Homo sapiens: one gene and its partner. The protein of the gene in region 2 interacts with the protein of the main gene of each other region in a pairwise test. Each region holds a gene or a part of one and is shown on either strand. Other genes may lie near its edges.

The links.
Region 1: the proteins of NCAM1 (region 2) and RHEB interact in a two-hybrid assay, tested with the Homo sapiens proteins (one large-scale study listed by BioGRID and IntAct).

The regions. Positions count from the first base shown.
Region 1 is NC_000007.14:151,467,890-151,471,709, forward strand, and holds part of RHEB (GTP-binding protein Rheb), read right to left. Parts: intron 3,717-3,820; coding exon 3,660-3,716; intron 3,553-3,659; coding exon 3,505-3,552; intron 2,764-3,504; coding exon 2,682-2,763; intron 1-2,681. UniProt on the Homo sapiens protein: Small GTPase that acts as an allosteric activator of the canonical mTORC1 complex, an evolutionarily conserved central nutrient sensor that stimulates anabolic reactions and macromolecule biosynthesis to promote cellular biomass generation and growth.
Region 2 is NC_000011.10:113,205,877-113,209,696, forward strand, and holds part of NCAM1 (neural cell adhesion molecule 1 isoform 2 precursor), read left to right. Parts: intron 1-166; coding exon 167-304; intron 305-1,384; coding exon 1,385-1,502; intron 1,503-1,956; coding exon 1,957-2,126; intron 2,127-3,820.

The DNA of each region.
Region 1 (3,820 bases), on a different chromosome or scaffold from region 2:
AGACCCTGTCCTTTATTTTTCCTTTTTTGTTATACAGATTGGAGGTTTCTATGTTGCCCAGGCTGGCCTCGAAAGCCTAGCCTCGCCTCCTTATGCACCAGGACAACAGGCCTGAGCCACCGTGACTCCCAGACCCTGTCCTTGAAATGCAGTCCTGTGGTCATGAAAAACTGCCCCTGTTCTCAGAAGCCCCACAGGAAGTACCCTGTTCTCCTAATCACCAAGAATCCCCCTCCCCCATCACTCCAGTGACTTCCACTATCCCACGAAACCAGAACACACCAACTGCCAGCGTCCCACCACACCACCTTCCCAGCTCTTTCTCTAGCTATCCTGAAGCAACAATTCTCAGCCCCACAAGGGGCCTGATTTGTTGACCCTATTATTACATCTCCCCTGTCCCTTAACCACTTCTTGCTGCTCCTTTCCCTCTCGGTCAGCTCAGACTCAGCAGGCCACCATGGCGCCACTGTACTTCAACTCCCTTCCCTACCAACTGTCGCTGGCACGGTGCCCGCGGCCACACCGTAAACGCTGCCCAGGGAAAACACACACCGCTCACTGCTGACCTCACACCCATGACCAGGAACCTGGCGCAGACACTTGGTGCTGCCTAGCCACCCGCCTGCATCCCTGGATCTGGGCACTCCCCAGAGAAAGCATCCACGCCTTGTCCCTTCTCCTCAAATGTTCCCCGTGCTTACGCTCAGCTGAAAACCTTGTTTTACACACTTCACTGGAAAACAGAAGCCACATTCATGAAAGAACTCCACATCCTCCATCCACCAAGCTGACCCACCCACTTGAATGTGGGCTCCCATCCTCAGCCTTCTGTCCTGTTGGTATGAATGAGGCGTCTGTCCTCCTAGTTAACTGAAGCCAACCCCAGGTCCCACCCCGCTTGTCTAATCTAGGTCACCGGCTTCAGATCACCTGATTGACAGGAAGCAGTGTGTAGAGAAAAAAGGACTAGATGTGGATGAGATCTACAATTCAGTCCTAGTTCTTATACCACGTAAGGTAGTGGGTGATCTTAGAAAAGTCATTTAACTTCTCTGAAACTTAATTTCCTCACTTCTAAAATGAGGCGGTTTAACTACATGATCTGAAGGATACAGTCCATAGGCACTCAATGGATTTAATTCAATTTTTAAAATATAGGTATCTCTTAACTATCTCAATTCTTATTTGAATTCTGTGTATACTCAGAAACTGAGCTGACTTCGATAAATCCCTTGCTATCTGGAACTTGGGAACGAATTACACACATCTGTTTAATCAGTTTTTTTCATCCGCACATAAGAGGACATAACCACATGGATTCACTATCCCTCCATATCCCAACACAGGACAAAGCCAATTTGACTATCACAGGATACTTGGGCTGACGGATAACCCACTGTGCTAAACATTATGAAGGATATTTATATAAATGATACTGACTCAGATCTCAGAACAAATTAAGAGGGCTAAGAGAAGAAACCACAATTTCTTTCAGCTGGATGGATCCAGAGGGGGTCAACAAGAAGGTGAAATCTAGGTGGGGCCTTGAGGACTACAAACCTCCGTGCTGCGGAGAGGGGCGGGGCAGGGAAGGAAGAGTGCCAAGGCTGCTGGCGCCCGGCCCTCCCAGGGAGGAGGCACCACCCTACTATACTAGAGTTTCCTCAGAGAAATGAAAACCAAGTCATCTTACCTGAGGATCAAACACCACCACATGTTGAAAACACATTCAAAATATAAAACCCCACATGAACCTAAGTAGATACTTAGAGAAGGGCTATTTTAAACCGGAGGGGAGCATGAGGAAAGGTGAGACATTTTGAAAGTGGGGTGGACAGGAGATGGTGTGTTTAAGGAAGGGAGCAGTTTGATGTGATGGAAAGTACAAGAACGTGGTGAGAGAAGAAACTAGAAAAGAACAAATTATTGACTGCATTCAGGACCAGGCGAAGGGTTCTATAGAGAAGGGGCAGTTCACTGACAGTTTCTGAGTAGAGGATGATACCATCAGATGTGTATCTTTAGAAAATTAAGGGCAGCAAAAAAAATGTATAGGTGAAAAATGCACTGGGGGCGGGAGACAAGCTTGGTGCCGGGGGTCTAAATTAGAGCAATGGAAGAGAAGGGCTCATACAGGACTGTGAAGCCTCCGGAGGCAGAATCTACATCCTTCCCAGAACATGCCTTTGAAGGCACATCTGCGGGGTGAAATTGGTACTAAATGCTTATAAGATGGTTCTTCATCATTTCTATGTTAACAATTAACACGTACGTCTGACCCGGTTTCATCTAACAGAAAAAAAGCCAGGGGGTGGGTAGTTACAAAATTAGTACTAAAGTGATATAATTCTTTTTTTTTCCCCTGTATGGACTTATTTCTGTACCAGCTATTAATACAAACCAAAAATATATGTTTACAAAAGGTAGTATTTCCTTTACTAATAGTTTCTGTTTATCCTACAAATATCCTAGGTTCCACTGTAAGTAGAATACTGACTGAATTTATAAACACCTAAGTAGTATCTTCCTAAAGCAACACAAAACTTGGTATTAGAAATGGAGGAAGGCCAGATGTTACACAGGAGTGATCAAGACAGAGGTCAAATGCCAACTGCAAGGAACACATCCCTGCGACTGATGAGAACGCAATGCAAAATGAGGTTTATAGAATCTGTTACCTGATTTTCTTTAGCAGAAGATTCCAAAAAAGCTGCATTCCAAGATTCTGCCAAAGCTTTCCCTTCTTCATAACTGATCACCCTAAAGAAAAAATAAAATTCTAGTTAAAGTACTTTGCTCTTCATTATATAAAACATGTATAATTGATTTATGAAACAGGCTCCATTTTGGTCAATTTCTTTCTCATGAAGCAGAACCATGCCCTGGCCTAACATTAGCATCAAGAATGTAACACAGGAGTGTTTTAATTACGCCTGAGCTGGGGAACAGAATAGACATTGCTTTATGGGATTATCCATGCTCCAGCAAACCTTCCAGCTCAGAGAACATGATCTTATTTTCCAGTACTCCCGTATCTGTAACAATTGACTATTTTACAGCTAGGTTGTAAGCACCCAAGGCCAGGGGAAATTGTGAAAGAGCCTGAAAGCTCAATTCTCTTGCATGCAGGCTGTAGAGTCTCTTCCTCTCTGACATGAAGCTGCCTGGGCAGGGGACATCTGCCTCCTTTGCTCCTCACTGTAATCCCAAACCCTGGTACTCAAAAACCACTTGCTGCATAAATGAGCACTATGTCTTTTTAGAATTTGCTTTATGCAAAGTGGCAGATAACCTAAAGGTAGTTTCCTATAAAGTTTGCTCTCTCTTTTCTAGAGGAATGTGAGATTTCTATTCCACTTTTGCTTCTGCTGCACACGACCATAACACCTCTGAACGGATAAAAATGCTACAGCTAAAAATATTCTTGACATCAGAACAATAATTAAAATGATACTTCAGTGACTAAATCATCTTAGATTTGACTTTATAAAAGCTACATACCTTTCCATATGCAGGTCTTTCTTATTCCCAACCAACATAATAGGTATTCTATTTGTAAGAAAAAAAAGACAAACCAGTAAGTGCCAGATTGTATTGCTCAGAAGATACTATTAAAAGAAGTTTCTCTAACAAGCAGATAAAATGGTACTACTTACTGTACTTTCCCCACCATATCCAACAATTTGCCATGGATAACTTTAATCACTTCAAAACTATAAAACAAAAAGTATAAATTAGACATCCATTTTAATGTTGAAGTTTTTAAATGTATGTTATGTTGCCAGCTGGAAAAATGTAAAATGTCACAGACTCACCA
Region 2 (3,820 bases):
ACATTTACTCTTGGCTGTATTTCAAAGCCAGGGACGCATTTTCTTATTTGGGCTTAAAACCCCACCCTATGATACTGAAGTTAGGAAAAAGGAAAGAGACTCAGCCACCTGCCTGCAGATGCTCTCTGACTGATTCTTGGATGAACCTGCCTCTTATCTCTTCTAGTCCGATTCATAGTCCTGTCCAACAACTACCTGCAGATCCGGGGCATCAAGAAAACAGATGAGGGCACTTATCGCTGTGAGGGCAGAATCCTGGCACGGGGGGAGATCAACTTCAAGGACATTCAGGTCATTGTGAATGGTGAGGAGAGTCCGTTCTTCCTGATCTCTGCATTGCTACAACCTTGGTTCTCCAAAATCATTCTCTTTAACTTCCTCTTGGGTCTGTAAATTAAATCCTGTCCTGACTCAATCATCCGTCTGAGCTAAATCCCCTCCCCACCGTAACATCTAGATTTCTTTTTTTTTTTTTTTTTAATATACTTGCCTGTTGGATCTTCCTTCAACTACGAGGGATTTTAGTGCAGCAACTGAATGTCCTTCACCGTTCTGCAGCACTAAAAACTTTCCCCCTGCTTACCTATTAATCCTCATTGTCCTTGATGTTACCATAATTGTGAAGTTATTCCGCTGCTTAAATGTTCAAAGAAAGTATTAAGTCAACTCAGGCCTCAGAATAGTCAGAATCATGGTCCATAGGCTTGTTAATCTTAACTTGCAGTGTCAAATAAACACACCCATGGAATTGATCTGACATTTACAAGATGTTTACAGGAAATTATAATGTCAGTACTAAGAAAATAAGTAAATCAGGGTTGAATTGTTTTGACTATTGACACATATTTTTTTTGCCAAACTCTCCCCATCTCATTCCTTTGGTAAAAAACAGTTTTGTACAAGGTTGTTTATCACAGTCCCAGAGAAATGGCACTCTTTGTTATAGCTGATGCATTCGAATTGGTGTTAACCATTTAACCACTGGGAGCAGTAATGTCCAACTTTTTCCAGTACAAAGAGCTCCTTTTTAACATCAAGTTTCACTGAACCTGGTAGTTATTAAGTTTAGTATGCATTGACTGAGAAAATACATAATGAAGAATAGTGACTATAAATTGAATACCATCTTAACATGCATAAAATGTATTACTATAGCTTCTCAATTAATGAAAAACAAAAATGCATGTTTGTAGAACTGTCTATTCAGTTTGCAGAAGTTATTTAGTACATACATGAATTTCAATTCCTGACACTAACTCTGTAGCTGCACACGACGTTTGTCCCACAGGCTGAGAACTCCTGACCTGGAGTGGTGTCTCTTCTCCAGGCCATTGGGTTCTTCCAAATTTTCACAACCACCCCATGACACCCTTTTTTCCTTCAGTGCCACCTACCATCCAGGCCAGGCAGAATATTGTGAATGCCACCGCCAACCTCGGCCAGTCCGTCACCCTGGTGTGCGATGCCGAAGGCTTCCCAGAGCCCACCATGAGCTGGACAAAGTAAGAAACTGGCTCATACCTTTTATCATGGACTAGAGGAGAATGGGGCATCACAAAGTCTGCTCCATGTTAGTGTCTGCGTGGAATGGATGTGGGCTTCTTAGGAATATTAACCCCAGGAGAAGAATGGACTCTTTTCTATAAGATTCTCTTGCTTGTGCATTGATTATTCCTTCAATTTCAGCCTTGTGGGGGCAGAGTCAGAGCCAGAGGGTGTGGTCTTGGGAGCCCACTTTGAAACATTTGTGGGTACAGTTGCAGCCCTTGGATAGTCAGAGGATGGAATAGAGGAATAAGAGGTGTATGTGGACGTTCAACTTGGTGCCTTAACTTTTTGTGAAGACTGAGGAGTCTTTCCCATTGACTCAGTCTGCATTCTATGGAACCTAATTAAAAATAAACGTCTTATTTCTGTGGTCGAAATCATGCTACTTTGCATTTCTACATGCTCTAGGGATGGGGAACAGATAGAGCAAGAGGAAGACGATGAGAAGTACATCTTCAGCGACGATAGTTCCCAGCTGACCATCAAAAAGGTGGATAAGAACGACGAGGCTGAGTACATCTGCATTGCTGAGAACAAGGCTGGCGAGCAGGATGCGACCATCCACCTCAAAGTCTTTGGTAGGGGCAGTGGGGGCCCAGGTCACTGCTCTGCCACAATTCCCCTTCCTCTGCACATTCAGTCCATCAGTAAGACCCTGGCCACTGTCCCTCAGAACATAACCCAATGCAACCATTTCTTGCCAGTTCCACCACCTAGTCCAAGCCCTAGTCCAAGCCACCATCATCCTCACCTGAGCAGTGGGACGGTCTCATAGCTGGCCTCCCCGACTCTCCCTATTGGTCCACTTCATTCACTTCTGCTCACAGTAGTCAGAATGACCTAAGTACCACTCATCTGTTTGAAAGCCTCCAGTGGCTCCCTATGGCAACCAGAATAAAATTCAGACTCCCTGCAATGGCCTACAAGACCAGAGATGAACTAGCTCCTGCCTTCTTCTCCAGCCTCATCTTTCTTTCGCTTTGCTGCACATGCAAAGTTCTCCAACCACACAGGCCTTCTTCATGTCCCTCAGACATACCAAGCTTGTTCTTCATCTCAGGATCACTGCCCTAGGTTTCTCTTCTGCTTGGAATATCTTTCCCTCTGATCCACTCTGAGCTGCCTTCTTCTGATCCACCATTCAGATCTTAACTCAAACTCACCTTCTCAGCGGCGCCTTCCTTCACTGCCCTGGCTAATTCAACTCCCTCTGCACTGCGACCACCCCCACCCACCTCCACTCATCTCTCTCTCGTGACTCTTACTGTATCTTCTTTGCTGTACTTAACAGTACCTGAACAGATGTCATTTGCATATTTGTTTTGGGGATTGTCTGTCTCCTACCTCTACTAGTGTGTAAACTTCAAGATAGCATAACCCTGGCTGTCATACACGGCGTTATCCCTGTGACTCCAAACAGTGCCAGACTTGGCATAGGCCCTTGGTAACTTTAGTGGTCGATGGGCTGGCTGCTTTGCCTTGTTTGCCTCCTTCCCTGACCTGTGCAAAACAGTGTCATGGAAGAGCCCCCACATCCCTGCTCACTTCATCTTCATAAACTCAGGAAACTTCCATTCATTTCAGAACTGAAAAGCATTTTGACCTGATCTTGAAAAAAGAATTGGTTGCAGAGAAACGTTTAACCTAATGGCCCTCAAGTCTCTCCGCGTGTCTGTTTAGAAAACACAGATAAACTGGTCTACTGTAGACAGCACTGGGGAAGTGCCAGTCTGAGGCGCAGCTCTGGTGCATGGAGCCCCCAGGTCATTAAAATGTGCACCTGGGAATCAGGGTTGGGACCTGCTTATCCAGCCTGATAAGGAGAACTGTTCATAAACACAGACCTTTGAAAATCAAGACTTTATATGCAAATGTCCTGCTAGTTATTCAGTAGTAAACAGCTGGGTTTAGAAACAGGCTATCAGTTAGGTTCAAGTTAACCGTACGTATTTGAGAGAGAAAGCTAAACTTCATGAAAAATATTCTTGAAAGTCTTTTCTTGAATTCAGACTGATCTTCCCCAATCACTATGGTTTTAGTAAGTTTTTCCATATTGTAGAAAAAGATAGATGCATTTGTTAATTAATCCCTTCATTTAATAAATACGTATGGATCACCATTGTTGCTGGACAGAGGGGCTACAGAGATGAATAGGATATGATCCCTTGACCCTGGGAAGCACAAAGAGGGAGATAAATGGATAAACATAAATGTTATAATAGTGTCAGTCAGCAACATTTGAGTGACTGCTGTGGACTCAGTCATTGCCAAG